Linked DNA regions of Homo sapiens: region 1 is linked to region 2. Evidence: fine-mapped expression QTL. Tissue or cell type: whole blood. Region 2 holds a variant in brackets; the other region holds the start of a gene. All regions are shown on one strand. Distances are between the middles of the regions.

The links. PIP is the estimated chance that this variant, and not a neighbour inherited with it, causes the effect.
Region 1: it holds the start of LYVE1, and the variant in region 2 is fine-mapped to the expression of LYVE1 in whole blood (TOPMed, PIP above 0.99).

What each region holds. Positions count from the first base shown.
Region 1 is chr11:10,564,887-10,572,993 of GRCh38, reverse strand. LYVE1 (lymphatic vessel endothelial hyaluronan receptor 1) reads left to right here and starts at 4,329. Exons shown (of 6, transcript NM_006691.4): 1 at 4,329-4,546. The coding sequence starts at 4,462. All of the region lies in intron 1 of IRAG1-AS1 (IRAG1 antisense RNA 1), which reads right to left.
Region 2 is chr11:10,601,978-10,610,084 of GRCh38, reverse strand. IRAG1 (inositol 1,4,5-triphosphate receptor associated 1) reads left to right here. Exons shown (of 21, transcript NM_130385.4): 11 at 234-357; 12 at 3,313-3,343; 13 at 5,540-5,680; 14 at 6,834-6,965. Among named protein-coding and RNA genes, the nearest start is that of LYVE1, 37 kb to the right of the region's middle. RefSeq lists enhancers at 3,649-3,943, 3,669-3,963. The variant A/G (reference allele first, on the strand shown) is at 3,921.

The DNA of each region.
Region 1 (8,107 bases), 37 kb after region 2:
ACCAAGTCAGAGGTCCCCAACCCTTGGTCGTTATACTATGGGCTACCTCACAGGGGCTGGATCAGTTCCTCCTCTTCCCTTCCCCATTCCTGATCCTGGTTTCCTGTATCTTCCTGGTCTATGATTTTTTTAATTAACACAGTTTGCTGTGATTGAGTCTGCTGAGTTTTTAACCAACCTGATTTCCACAGCTGAACTATTTTTGTCTTTCTTACAGCTAGCTGCAGGGGAATGTGGACTTTCCAAATCTAGTTCCCTAAAAATAAACTCTCCTGCCCAATACTTCACACCTTTTTTTACTCCCTTCTCTGCCTACCAAAGCCAGAGGATTCAGATGAGAACACTGAGACCCGAGAAAATGGCAGAACCACTAGACGGAAGCTGGGTCTTTGAATGAGCACTCCCAGTATTGAACTGTGACATGAATAAGAAATAAGATTTTAGTATATTAAGCCACAGAGATTCCAGGATGTTTATAGCAGTTAGCCTACCCTAATGCATACATTTGAACCAGAAATTGTGTACTTTAATAGCAAAATTCCAAAATATGAGGTTCTAGCTTACCAGTTACATGGCAAGAAACAAAACTGCTAGAAAGATGGTAAGATAGTAAAGTCTTACCTGTGATAACTTGGAAAGCATCTCATGGTTAGCCTATTTATAAGTGGTGGAAAGAATCAGCGTTGGGGTATGGAAACTTCTCTTGGCTGCCTTTGGCAAGGTATGGCAGGAGAAATAATTGGCTATGTGGGAGCAAAAATGAAAAAGAATATAGAGTATTCAGAAATGTGAAAGATTGAAGGGTGAGAAAACCTGACCACTTCTAAATCCCAGACAGACTAAAAAGAGCTTTGAGTGGGAGCCAATAAAATTTCTCAGTTGAACAGATCGACTCAGCCTTATGGCAAAGGCTAGATTAAGGATGTGGCCCTTTGTGAGTTCAAATGAACTTAGTGTATTCACCACTAAATTTGAGGGGTATGGTGCTGAGAAACAGGAAATACTTCTTGAGAATTATGACTGGGAAAGGATTTGGGGTATGATTATTGGCACATGGAAGCAGAAATCTAACTTTGTGAGGGAATTTACAAAGAAACACAAGCCAGGACTAAAAACCCCTTTCATTGTTCAGGTGAGGAAACAGCTTTGAGGAGGAAAGAAAATATATCAGAGAGATACCTGCACCCTCATGTTTATTGCAGCAGTATTCACAATCGCCAAGATATGGTATTAAAATGTGTCCAGCAACAGATGAGTGGATAAAGAAAACATGGTGTACATACACAACGGAATAGTATTCAGCCGTAAAAAATGAAATCCTGGCATTCACAGCAACATAGATGGAAATGGAGGTCATTATGTGAAGTAAAATAAGCCATGAACAGAAAGTTAACACCACATGTTCTAATTCATGGAAGCTAACAAAAGATCTCATGGAAGTAAAAAACAGAATAGAGGATACTAGTGGCTGGAAAGGGAAGAGAGGAGGAAAAGACAGATTTGTTAAAGGACATAAAATTAGGAGGAACAAGTTATAGTGTTTTATGGCACTATAGGATGACTATAGATAACAATAACATATTTTCAAATAGCTGGAAGAGAAGATATTGAACACCCCCAACACAAAGGATAAATGTTTCAGATGATGGATATGCTAATTAGCCTGATCTGATCACTACATCTTGTTTGTATGGAAACATCAAAATGTACATGTGTATAATTATGTATTGATTAAAAATAAAATTTTTTTAAAATTAAGAAAACTTTTGGGATCTTAGCTTATGCCGGCAGGAAGCAGACTGCAAAAGCTGTGCTATTCCCAAGGAAGGCATACTCCCTAATATCCACTTCAAATGTGGACAAGCAAGATTATATGCAAATGAATCTCCCAGAGGGATGCAAAGGGCCGCAGAAAACAGTGGATGTGGAAGTTTCTCTCAGAAAGCAGATCAGAATCAAATCAAGGTTAAGTGACTGTGGAAGGCAGAATTTCTAGAATAGCCCTCCAAAGATGTCCCACCCTAATCCCTGGAGCCTTTGAATAGGAGCTCCAGGGGTATGGAGCTTTGTTGTGTTACATTAGATGGTACAGTTGACCTTAAGATAGGGAGGTTATCCAGGTGGGCCCATGAGCCCTTAAAAGCAGACAGCTCGCCGGGCGCGGTGGCTCACGCCTGTAATCCCAGCATTTGGGAGGCTGAGGCGGGCGGATCATGAGGTCAGGAGATCGAGACCATCCTGGCTAACACAGTGAAACCCTGCCTCTACCAAAAATACAAAAAATTAGCTGGGTGTGGTGGCGGGCGCCTGTAGTCCCAGATACTCGGGAGGCTGAGGCAAGGAATGGCATGAACCCAGGAGGCAGAGCTTGCAGTGAGCTGAGATCACGCCACTGCACTCCAGCCTGGGCAACAGAGTGAGACTCTGTCTCAAAAAAAAAAAAAAAAAAAAAAAAAGTAGAGAGCTCTGCTTGAGCCCAGGAGGTAGATGCTGCAGTGAGTCACGATGGCGCCACTGCGCTCCAGCCAACAGAGCAAGACCGTGTCTCTTAAAAGAGCAGAGAACTTTCTCTGGCTAACTGTAGAAGTGAAAGAGAGACTAGAAGTATGAGAAGGACTCAGTGTGTCATTGCTGCTTTGAAAATGGAAGGGCTCTAGGAGAAGAGAATGGTCCCTGGCTGACACCCTGCAAGGAAACAGGGACCTCATTCCCACAACCTCAAAGAAATGAATTCTGCCAACAACCCAAATGTGCTTCGAAGTGGATTCTTCCCCAGAGCCTCTGGGTAAGAGCCCAGCCCAGCCAGCACCTTAATGTCAGTTTCGTGAGACCCAGGGCAGAGGACCCAACTGAGCCCACTCAGACCTCTGACATATAGAAGCTGTTAAATGATAAATGAGTACTGTTTAAGCCGCTAAGTCTATGGTAATTTGTTGGACAGCAATAGAAAGCTGGCACAGCGACCTTTCTAAGGCCTCTTCATTGGTATTCCAGAAATTCTATGGCTGGTGATCACTGTGACTCTCATTCTCCTCCTTGACACAAAGCCTTGCCTTCCCTGATTCATTCTTCCCCTTCCTGTCTTCCTTCGTTCTTTTTGCAATAAGTGAACAAATGCTAGAAAGCTAGCTCTCTTTCGGGCATGGTGTTAGGCTTTAAGAATAATCATGAAGAGGCCAGGACTCTGCCTGTCTGCCTCCCTGGTGCTGTGATGATAGAGTCATGCATGTTTCTGAGAAACTGGGGCTTGTGCTCACCCAGATCATGAGGTCGGTATTGGAGATGTGTAAGGGCTGTTACCCTGGTCTTTTAGAAGTTCCCTGCATTTGTTTAGAGCAGATTCTCTTTTTGTTATTGATATTTTTCACACAAATATCTAACTTTATGACCAGTACCACTTATATAAAAAAGAATTCGTTATCCATATACTTTTCCTATAAAAGACATTCATTTTGGAAAAATCTCATAAACCTTTGCCCAAGACATTGCTTACAAGCCAGAACTCCATAATTACCATGAAGCAAAAACCACTGAAAATCCGGCTGGAAAAACATAGAATACACTCTGCTGGTACACAGCACAGATAAACCTCATGTTCATCGAACAACAAAGGTGGAGTCTGACTTGAATTCTGGCCTACCAGAATATGAAAGGAGTTATTAAGAGAAAGTTATTTCATAAAAGACCCCTGTGGTGATTACTATTGTAAAGTTAAAAATCCTTGGGGAAAGTGTAAAATGTTTAATTTTGTAAATTGCCCTCCTACTTGTGTTATGTAAATGTGAATGTTTATATGTGCCTGGTTTCTTTGAAAAAGGAATCACCTGTAGTGGTGTAGAGATTTCAAATGTGTAAAAGGAGACTCAAAGGAAGGCAGAAGGTTCTAGACTCAGTATTTAAGTGGACATTTACTTTCATGAGCTTCAGCATCATACCCTGCAGATCACAAGGCCGAACAGCTGGGTGGAAAAATCACTGATTGCGGGAGGAAAAGAGGCACAACCTATGCTCAGTCTCCTTTAGGGACAGAGATGTTTCTAGGAGTACATAAACGATGGACTCCACAGGCAGTAACAGTGAATGGTGTGAGAACTGAGCTGCTGGGGGAGGAGGAACAGCAGGGAATATGGGAATTGGGAGAACCTTTAGCAGTTCACACTGTGCTATCTGCCTTCCTCATTTGTGTGTTTTCTGAGTCAGCATTAGCTAAATTTTCCAGAAGGCCATCCACAAAGTACAGCCTGGGCGTTCAAGGGACGTCATTCATTTCCCCCAGTGACCTTGACAAGTCAGAAGCTTGAAAGCAGGGAAATCCGGATGTCTCGGTTATGAAGTGGAGCAGTGAGTGTGAGCCTCAACATAGTTCCAGAACTCTCCATCCGGACTAGTTATTGAGCATCTGCCTCTCATATCACCAGTGGCCATCTGAGGTGTTTCCCTGGCTCTGAAGGGGTAGGCACGATGGCCAGGTGCTTCAGCCTGGTGTTGCTTCTCACTTCCATCTGGACCACGAGGCTCCTGGTCCAAGGCTCTTTGCGTGCAGAAGGTAGGTTTCTCACCAGATTTCCAAACTGAAGCAAGGCTTCAGTCCTAAGCCTCCTAAGCTGTTGACTATGGATTTCTGGGAATGAGGGTGACCCTCAGTGTCAACAGCAGGTCTAATTGGTGGTACTGCTCTGCCAAAAATGTACCACCATATTGTCAACTTCACCAAAATGATTGACATTTACGTTTGTATCATCTGGACTTTTACTTTTGGTTATGGAATATTTTTAATGAGGACATTTTGAAATAAAACACTGAAGAGAAACCATTTGATTTTTACTCTTTTTTGTATGGGTGGTATTTAAATTTTTTGTAGCAATGGGATCTCGCTTTGTTGCCCAGCCTGGTCTTGAACTCCTGGCTTCAAGTGATCGTCCTGCCTCAGCCTACCAAAGTACTGGGATTGCAGGCATGAGCCACTGCATCCAGAAGTAATAATTTTTTTTTAAGTATTTCATTGAAGACGCAAACCATGATTGTAAAAAATTTAAAGCAATCACTAAGCTTGGGAATAATGGGTAACTTTCACTAAAATTGGCCTGTTTTTATGTTTTTTGGGAGTGTTAGCATAATTATTTTAATTTTGATTTTATCATACCATGAATGAGGTGCAATGTTTTAAAAAAATATTCAGTAAATAGCAAATTAGCTGAAAAAAATCTGTAAAAATATAAGTTTGAAAATTAAGCCATCGGCTGTCTACTAAAGGAATGACTTAAAGTGATCGCTGGGCTTTTGAGATGCCTAAATGGAAACCTCATTTTGCACTGTAGGCAAAAAAATTGTAACCACAAATCACTCATTGCAGCTCTGGGCAAATGAAAATCTGAGCACTTTAATAGGAAAATGTGTGTTCCTATGCTGGAAGATGACCTGAGATATAAAATATGCTAGAAACAGACATTCAGAGTTGATTTATATGTTGTTGCATTACATTTTATAAGAAAGGTCAGAGTTATATGATTAGTTTTTTAAAATACTGTTACTTTCAAATAAGTTTGGTCCTCTTTGAAATCCTCTGGGGAGACTATTTTTCCCCACAATGCTGCCATTATTCAAACTATTGGACACTGTTTTTTGAAAATGACTCCATCACACTCTGGACTATCCTCAGCAAGGGAAAAAGATTTTCTAGGGAAATTACATTTTTGGAAACAACCAAAAGTCAGCATAACCATGACTGCAGAATAAAGTAGTTGATGAAGGTAAGTGAATAGGGGTGGGAACTATATTTGAGGGCCAAGTATATAGTGATCCAGAGCTAGGTGTGTATATACAATTTCATTTAATCCTCTCAAAAAGACAGTTTATAGGTGAAGTGACTTGCCCAATGTCATGCAGGCAGTACATAATAAATATTGGGTTTGAATTCAGCCCTATCTGATTCCTAAGCATATGCTATTATCTGATTCCACATCCTTATATCTAACTCCTAAGCATACACTATTTCTACTATGTTTGCTGTTTCCTGAGAAATCTTAAGGAAGGAGTTACTGGAGTACTCCCTTAAATTCCAGCTCCCTCTTTTGATCCCTAAATGAAATAGGAAAGCATAAAATGACTAATGTTGTTGACTTCCTACTGGGCCCCGCCTCTGCTAGGTACAAGTTATCTAATTTAATTCTGATAAAAATCATGTGAAGAAGATATATCCATCCCCATTTTCAGATGAGAATGCTGACTTGCCTGATGTCGCAACAGCCAGTTAACAATAGAAAAAATATTCAAAGCTAAGTCTATCCACCTAGAATAAGTCTATCACTCCTCTAAATAATAGTATTTAGAGTACAAATGACATATGATGAGAGGGTAGTAAGACCAATTGATAATGTGACAAATAAACCTCTGCAATCCATTCCCAAAGAAGTAGCTATAAGAGACCTGAGCAATAGCAAGCTCATGAGCTAAAAGAGCCAAATTTCAGAGCAAACGGTGTGTTCAGGGAGTTCAGCCTAGGGGTGTGTGTGTGTCTGTGTGTGTTCATTTCCTTATAGCACTGTGAAAGGTAAAACAGTGTCATTGTTAAGAACTGGGGGCCGGGTTGGGCACGGTGGTTCATGACTGTAATCTCAGCACTTTAGGAGGCCGAGGTGGGTGGATCACCTGAGGTCAGGAGTTTGAGACCAGCCTGGCCAACATGGTGAAACCCCATCTCTACAAAAAATACAAAAATTAGCTGGGCATGGTGTCTCGCGTCTGTAGTCCCAGCTAGTCAGGAGGCTGAAGCACAAGAGTTGCTTGGACCCGGGAGGCAGAGGTTGCAGTGAGCATGGATCACGCCACTGCACTGCAGCCTGGGTGACAGAACGAGACTCTGTCTCAAAAAAGAAAAAAAAAAGGGCCAGGCACAGTGGCTCACGCCTGTAATCCCAGCACTTTGGGAAGCCAAGGTGGGTGGATCACCTGAGGTCGGCAGTTCAAGACCAACCTGACCAACATGGAGAAACCCTGTCTCTACTAAAAGTACAAAATTAGCCAGGTTTGGTGGCACATGCCTGTAATCCCAGCTACTTGGGAGAATGAGGCAGGAGAATCGCTTGAACCCAGGAGGTGGAGGTTACAGTGAGCCGAGATCACGCTATTGCACTCCAGCCTGGGCAACAAGAGTGAAACTCCGTCTCAAAAAAAAAAAAAGAACTGGGGTTCTTGCTTGGCCATACTGGTGCACACCTGTAGTTCCAGCTACTCAGGGAGGCTGAGGTGGGAGGATTGCTTGAGCCCAGGAATTTACGACCAGCCTGGGCAACATAGCAAGATCCATCTCTTGGGAAAGAAGAAGGAAAAAAGAGGAACTGGGGTTTTAGAATCAGGCATAATTGAGTGTGTGCTCCTAATCTGCCACCACAGCAAGGTTCATATGGAGGACTTAGAAATGCTCCTTCCATGTTTTCAAAAAGAAACTTCCATTAGATATCAACCTAGGAAGTGGTCAAAGCATTTGACTGAGCATCCAATACACAGAGCTGCGTACAAGCAATTACTTGAGAGATTTAAATGCCCTTTTATGGATGTTTGTGGATGAAGCCCAGTAGGAATAATGTATTTGAATACAATACAACTTGGCAATTTTATACAGGTCTGTACATCCCAGAACCCAGAGAAAAGGGTTCAAAAGAATTCCCAAATCCATTAGATTTTGAGTAGAAATATTATTCATATCTTACCTATTCAACAGCCTCAGCTTCTGTGGGGTAATCAATCATTAGCAGACCAAAACCAAAATGCTTTAACGATAATGATAATGTTATGTGGATTTATTAAGCACCTACCATGTGGCAGGCACTATGCTAAACATTTGTATTAGAATTTACTCACTTAACTTTCACTACCCTATTCAGTAGACACTGTTACTCCCTTGAATTTATAAACAAGGAGGCTCAAAGAGCTGAAGATTAAAGAGATGAAGTATCTAGGCTAAGGTCACAGAGCTAGCAAATGACATATGCTAGATCTAAGCCCAAGTCTGACTCTAAAATTCTGCTTTCTTCATTTAGTTTTTCTGCCATTCAAAGTTTACTGCCAGCTCCTCCAGGAACTTCTGAGTAAGCCTGTCCCCCAGTGG
Region 2 (8,107 bases):
TGCTAGTTCTGTAATCTTGAGCAAGTGACTTAACCTTGCTGAGCCTTGGCTTATCTACATGTGAAATGGGATGACTAAGTTCTAGCTCATTGTGAGAATAATGTAAGATAACAATTAAAAAGCCCTTAACATAGAACTAGATACTTATAAATGTCAAAGCTCCTGAAGCTAGCTGCCAACAGTACTACTGTGATTTCAAAGAGACATTTTATAAGTAAGCACTTTTTTTTCAGGGCTTCCTTCTGAACTCTCCCCAGCTATTGAGGAAGAAGAGTCAAAGAGTGGCTTAGATGTCATGCCTAATATTTCTGATGTGCTGCTGCGCAAACTGCGGGTCCACAGGAGTCTCCCTGGAAGGTAAAATCAGGATGTGGGTTACAGAAGGCCCTGTACCGAGTGGCCCCTGTGTTGGATTCTAGGTGGGACACAGAGGAACACCAGTCTTAATTCTTGAACCCAGAAGGGCCAAAGTCCAATTGTCTAGATAGGGATAATGCATTCGAAACAAAAAGAATAATGAAAGGCCAGGCTGGGTGTTTTCAACTCAAAGGCCAGGTGGGGTTCTTAGGTGAGCACAGTTCATGAAGGCATAAGGGTCACCAGAAGCTCATGGCAGCAGAGAATGGGCTTTGAGCCAGGAGACATGGGTTTCAATCCCAGATACACCATTTACCCATGACTAGTTAAGTTTTCAAATATTTTTTTGTAGAGATAGGGTCTTGCTATGTTGCCCAAGATAATCTTGAACTCCTGGCCTCAAGTGATCCTTCTACCTCGGCCTCCCAAAGCACAAATAACATTTAAGTAACCAAATGAATGATTTGAAAGAGTAAAGTTGGTAGAAAGACCATAAAATAGGGCACATCTAGAGAATGACATGAGAGTGGGGCATTGGGTAGGAGGTCAAGGAAAGGCCTCTGTGATAAAGTAATAATTTGAGATGTGCAAATAACAAATGACAAAAAGCCACTCATGCAAGGGTTTTGGTAAGATTTACAGAGGAAAAAAATTGTAATTTTAACAAACGGTGCTGGGACAACTGGATAGCCACATACAAAAGAGTGAAGTTGGACCCCTACCTCACACAAAACACACAAATTAACTCATAATGGATCATAGACCTAAATGTCAGAGAGAACACTATAAGACTCTTCAAAGAAAAAATATAAGTAAATCTTCATGTCTTTGGGTTTTTTAGATATGGCACCAAAAACACAAGAGACAAGATTTTAAAAATAAATAGTACTTCCTCAAAATAAAAACTTCTGTGCTGCAAACAGTGTCAAGAAAGTGAAAGGCAACCCACAGAATGAAATATTTGCAAATCACTTATCTGAAAAGGAACTTGTTTCTAGAGCATATAAAGAAGGCTTACACTCAATAAAAAGATAAATAACCAATTTTTCAAAATGGGGAAAGGATTTAAATAGACATTTCTTCAGAGAAGATATACAAATAGTCACTTAAAAAAGATGCTGTGTCCTTTTAGAGGCTCACAGCTCTGCCCCCGGGTACCTATGCCCATTTGTAAGGCACAGTTATCTGCATCAGACACCAGACATACCATGTGGCTTCTCTGCCTAAATCATACTTCTCTGAGTCCTCAGAGTTTCCCCCCAGACCCCCACTTTTTTTTTAAGGTGGGTATGTTCTAACTGGGTGTGGTGGCTCATACACCTGTAATCCTAGCACTTTGTAGGCTCAAGGCAAGAGGATCACTTGAGGCCAAGAGTTTAAGACCAGCCTGGACAACAGAGTGAAACTCTGTTTCTACAAAAAATAAAAATAAAAAATTAGCCAGGTATAGTGGCATGCACCCATAGTCCCAGCTACTCTGGTGGCTGAGGCAGGAGGATTGCTTGAACCCAGGAGTTCAAGGCTGTAGTAAGCCACCTCTGCAGTGATCCTGCCACTGCACTCCAGCCTGGGCAGCAGAGCGAGACCCTGTCCCCAAAAATAAATAAATAAAATAAAAATAAGGTGGGTGTGTTCTACAGCAAAAAAGCAGAATGTGAGTCATTGAAATAGAAAAATGTTTGGTTTATAATTTATGAAAATATGTGCATTTCACATAATATCCCAACAAACCCAGGAGTCAGAAACAAACTTGGCAAGTTTTGCCAAATCATTTAAATCATATGTGTATGCTGTAGATGACAGTTAAGGCAAGGGCCTGATGGGTGGGGTTGTGACAAGGACTGTAAGTGTCAAACATCCCTGCAGCTGTTTGTCCCGTGTTCTGGACTCCGCTGACTTCATGGCCATGGGGTCTTCTCATCCTGACAGGAAGGCACTCATATCATTCCCTAGGGGTGAGAACCAGCCCCCTGCAGAGATGGCTGACCCCTACCTTTGCTCTTGGGGTCCCTTCACACCCGTTCAAGAGAGGAAGCTGTGTTTCCTGAGAAGCTTATTGATGGCATGCTCTGTTGCCAAGTTCTGTGACGCTGGTAGGACCCCTCCCAGGCCTCCCCGCCCCAGCACAGGAAAGGGCCTGTGCATTATTTACATTGTGTGGACTTCAGATGGGGCCAGCTTTAGTTACCAGCAAGAGCAGCAGCCACAGCAGCATCGAGTGGACATGCAGATGCAGGGACTGCCTATAGCTGGAGAGCCCTGGCTGTGGGAACGCCACAGACGAGGAGCTGCTCAAAAGGATGCCTCTGTGTCGGCTGGGGCTTTCTTGCCACTCTGTGATTCTAGCCATCAGAAGTTCTTGCTGTGGAGAAGAACCCTGGTCACTCTCTCCTACCATTTATTCTCTGGCCCGCATGCACCTTTGTCACAGCCCTCAGAGACAGAGGAGGGTGAGGCTTTGCAGACCTGGGTGGATATCCCCAGAACAATTATAATGGCAACTTAGATGTGTATGAGTTATAAAGTCCTTATCACATGCATTTTCTTATTTCTCACAGCAAGGCTATGAGTTCAAGGTCACATTTCCCGAGAGCCCACTGAGTGTGGATGCCATATATTTATGCATACAAACACATACACATACATACATGAGTACATATAGTGCTTATAATACCTCTGCAAGGTAGGTGATATGATTCCCATTTTGCAGATGAGCACGCTGGGGCTTAGAGAGATTAAATAACTTGTCCAAAGTCACAGAGATAGTCATGGTGCCGTAAGAGTCAGTATCTCACAGGTGACAGAGCACAGGCAAGGGGACATTGCATCTTTTCCTTCTCACCAACACAGCTTACTCCACCCCTGGAAACACATGGTCTGCTGGTCATTCAGAGTCACCTTTGGGTCTATTGACTAGGTTGCACACAGTTCAATTGTGTGTTTTCTTTTTCACAGTGCCCCTCCACTCACTGAAAAGGAAGTTGAGGTAAGTGACTCAAGTGTGTTATGAAATTTAGTGCCCGTGCTTGACTGGGCTTATTCAAAACATTTCTTCCTCCAGACTCTAGCTCTGACATTTTTAGACAAAAATGAGAAAGAGTGACTGTGGGGTAATGTGAACATTCATGACCAGCCCTCTTGAACCATGAGATCCCCATTCCCACGTCCGTTCATGGAAGATTTTGACAAATTTGGGCAAAAGGGAGAAGGTAGTTGGAAATTTTACATTCCTGTAAGGATTGTTTATATTCTTTAAATGTACGACTTAGATACACAAAACCAGCTGGGAGGCTGCAGAATTGAATCAAATTTATTTCAAAATTACTGAAAAATGGTCAGATTTCAAGTTCTAAGCTTTAGTTTAGTGGGAAAGGGGGCTGGCCTCCTCAGGGTTTCAGCTACAAGAATGCCAGCTCAGCGGAGCCGGGAAGCTGTGCTGTCAGCAATCCAGCCTTCCGGTTTCCTCACTGGGGCCTCCTTGTCCCAGCGGGGTTGTGAGTGAGCTGAGGGGAATCTGCATTTCATTCTGTAGCGGACAAAGAGAACTTATCAGAGGTGAGACA[A/G]TGAGAACTGCTGATGTGGACCAGATAAGCAGAGGAAGACAGACAGTATGAAGTATCTACCACAGGTAGTATCTATAACTTGCACACAGGCATTGCACTTGCAGTCTATAACACACGCATAGCCATCCTTTCAGCTGATCCTAACCAGCAGCTCTGAAAAGCAGGTGGAGCAGGAATCAGCACAAAGGAGAAAACTGAGTGAGTAAATAACCACACCAAGTTTCTAGATACTGTAGTTGGCAAAACCAAGACCTAGATCCAAGTGTTCTCACTGAATTCAGAACTCATTGTGTCACACTGCTGTTAAGGGGATAATCAAGGTATAGAAAATTAAGCATTGAGCATTATTCATAGACTTGACCAAGGCCGGGTAAGGCAGAAAATTTCTATCACTGGGCTATGAGCTCTAAGCCTACCCACTGACATTTGTGAAGATGGGCCATGGGCGGTTTGTTTAATGTCCAAATGCTGACCGCAGATGTATATGGACACAGCTCTCGGCATGGTGGAAATAAAACAGGCTTTCAAATCAGACAGTCTGAGGTTAAATCCTGGCTCCGTTACTCCGTGTCACCTTGAACAAGTTAATGACCGTTCTGGTCTTGGCCTCTTTACCCATAAACAGGTATAACAGTTCCCACCCCAGAGGGTTATTGTGAGATTACATGAATTTGTAGAATGAAAAGCAGTGCTGGCATATAGTAGATGCTCAATAAGGAGTAGTTTTCAATATTGCCTTCATCATCATCATTGGGTCAATTCTGTACCTTCAATTCTTCTGGAGATGACTGCCTTCCATGGGCCATGTTACATGAACTTCAGAAGCCCCTGTGGTTACTAACCCTGCAGGGTATAAATCTGCTACCACTCAGGGCAGATGATGGCTGTAAAATTGAAGACCATTGCTTCCTTCCTGAGTGAGGTCCATCTGTCTATTTCTTCTCCCTAGTAGTTTCCTACTGTTCTGGGAATTCCATGTATGACCAATATTATCTTTTCAAAGTCTGTTCATGCAGGCTGCAATTTTAGCATGAAACATTTATTTATTCCAGAAAGCTTAACCGAACAGAATCATACCTGGCCTTATTTAATCTCCTGGCAGCTACTTAAAGCTTCTATCAATACAGGATTTGGAATACTCGGGCTAGATGCTGATTGAAGTTTGCTTTACGTCAACAATGCTTAAATCTCACATGGAGTTTCTTTCAATACAGTATTTTCCTGCAAAATCTCCAAAACCCCTCATGCAATAAATCCCAGCATAAATCCAGATGCTTACACAATTAGCTGTACTGGCCTGAGTTTATCTAAACCCAGATACAGGATGTTATTTTCTTAAAATTCAGGAAAAAGCAAAGTGTTATTCTCTTCTTATTTTTTGGTAGAATACATTTGGACCTCCGGTTCTGGGAAGGGCCTAGCGTGGACCTTGGTCCCTGCTTTACCATCTTTTTTGTGGTTTCCTGTGAAGTGAGCGTTTCCCTTGCACATGGCTGCTTTGGTGCTTTGGCGGCTGTTCCAGGGGCCGTTGCAAAACGCTCGTGCAAGGAGCACAGCTGCAGCCTTGTCCTCTGCAGTAACTCCTCCCAGCACCTCTCTCACACCCTTGTTCCCAACAGAACGTGTTTGTGCAACTGTCCTTGGCCTTTAGAAATGACAGCTACACTCTGGAATCTAGAATTAACCAGGCTGAAAGGGAACGCAACCTGACAGAGGAGAACACTGAGAAAGAACTGGAAAACTTCAAAGCTTCCATTACGGTAATTGTGGAGCCTGATGTGAGGAATCCCTGGAGCAGAGACTGTCCCCAAGGGCCATACAGGGTGTCATGCTTCTCTCAGGTACCAAGTATAGTCTCCTGAAGTGAAAAATTGAGCCAAGACTCTGACAGTGTTCCTCAGAGAGTTGGGGGGAACTGAGGCAGAGATCCCAAAGGCCTGGTTCCCTCAGGGCTGTGGACAGGTCCTCCAAAGCCTTGGGAGCTTCTCAGAAGGGGGCAGGGTGGCCTGGGTGTGACTCCTACTTTCAGGCGCCAGGGATAGCGTGTTCACATTGGGCTTCTCCAAGCACCAGAAGAAACTGTGGCCCAGGCCCTGCAGAGGCCACTTCTCTCAGCCTGGATGGGGCCCAGAGCTGCTTTCATGAGAGCTGAGTCTAGGCTTGGTGTGTGTCTTAGTCAGTTTGAATTGCTGTAACAAAGGGCCTTAGACTGGGTGGCTTAAATGGCAAACATTTATTTCTCATAGTTCTGGAGGCTGGAAGGCCAAGATCAGGGCACCAGCATGGTCGGGTTCTGGTGAGGGCCATCTCTGGCTTGCAGACTACCACCTTTCCATTATATCTTACATGGTGGAAAGAGAACAGAACTCTCTGGGGTCCCTTTTATAAGAGCACTAATTCCATTCGTGGGGCTCCACTCTCCTCACCTAATCACCTCGCCCAGGCCCCACTTCACTATCACATTGAGGAGTTAGGATATGTCCCCCCAAAAGTCAGCAGATGACTTTGTGGGGGGCACAGACATTTAGCCCAGTGGTCCGCATCCCCTGGGCCAGGCCGCAAACCGGTACCAAACCATGGCCTGTTAGGAACCAGGCTGCACAGTAGGAGGTGAGCTGCCTGAGAGCATGACCTCCTGAGCTCCGCCGCCTGTCAGATCAGCAGCAGCATTCGATTCCCATAGGGTCACGAACCCTATTGTAAACTGTGCATGCGAAGGATCTAGGTTGTACCCTCCTTATAAGAATCTAATGATCAGAGGTGGAAGAGTTTCATCCCCAAACCATCGCCCCCACCAGGTTTGTGGAAAAATTGTCTTCCAAACCAGTCCCTGAGGCCGAAAAGGTTGGGGACTGCTGATTTAGTCCATAACATTATTTGAGGACCCCAGGTGATGCTCCTACTCCTGTTCAGTCCTCAGCTTCACTCTGGCACCACTGTGAGCACCGGGAAACCTACCAGAAGTTGCTGGAGGACATCGCTGTCCTGCACCGCCTGGCTGCCCGCCTCTCCAGCCGAGCTGAGGTGGTAGGCGCCGTCCGCCAGGTGAGTCTCTCCAGCCCCCGGTCTTGCCAACTCTGTTCCACCTACGTAAAGTAGAGCAATCACCCAAGCAGCGGCAACTACAGATACCACTTAGAGGTGGCTTCCTCTGGGCCAGGCATCCTATGCACATCATTGCAGTATTATTCAGAGTATTTTTGGCAGATCACTGAACCCTCAAGGTGCTTTGTGGAAAAAGGTTTCTGTGGACGCACAAGTTTGGGGACTACTGCATACTATCTTTCTTTCTTGGAAATTTCTAACACATTGGCCTAATCAAGGCTTTGGTAACTCCTGTGGTGGAGAAGGCTGGTTCACTTTACCTACATAGTTCCCAAACGTATTTAACTGAAGAATTCCCCCCACAGCTCTCCATTTTATTTTTCTCAAAAAATACCTGTTCAACTCCCATGGAGCTAGTATTTGACAAAACATACTTTAGGAAAACCTGCTTTGTCTCATTAAATCCACCCAGCAACCCTATAAATATCCTGTCTCCCAGATGAAGATGCAGAGTCTCAGAAAGTAAAAGCGTTAGTGGCGGAGCGGGGCACAGGCCCAGGTCTGGCTCTCTCTTGGCCACTTTGAAGTCCTGAAGCATACAGAGCCCCGCCCCGGCCCCCCATGTTGTAGCAGGAGCACATTGCCCGAGTTCTAATCCTGGCTCCAACCTTCATTCGCTGTGTGACCTTGGGCCCCTTACTGAGGTTTCTCTGCTTCAGTCTTTTCAAGTATAAAATGAGGATGGTCACAGTATCTGCCATAGAGGGTTGCTGCCGTACTTGTAAAGCATTTGGATGTTGTTATTATGTTGCTATGACATGAATCTATGTCCTGCTGCTCTGGTTACATGAGAGGAGGTTCCTGGGGTGGTGCAGCCCTGAGCAGTTCCTATTAAATAAAAGAAAGACCTGTCGCTGGGCCATCCCACCCTGTGTCCTTCAGGACAAGGACATCTGACTCAGCAGTGGTGCCCAGGAAGTCACTCCAGCTGGGAGCAGCAACACGGGAGGACTCTAGGGAAGTAGCTGGTCTCAGCCACGCATGACTGTGGGACCTGTTCCTGCGAAGCCACTGGGTGTGTCCCTCTGTGGCCAGGCAGGGCCTGAGCTAGATCCTCTGAGGGATCTAACTGGGGTATGAGC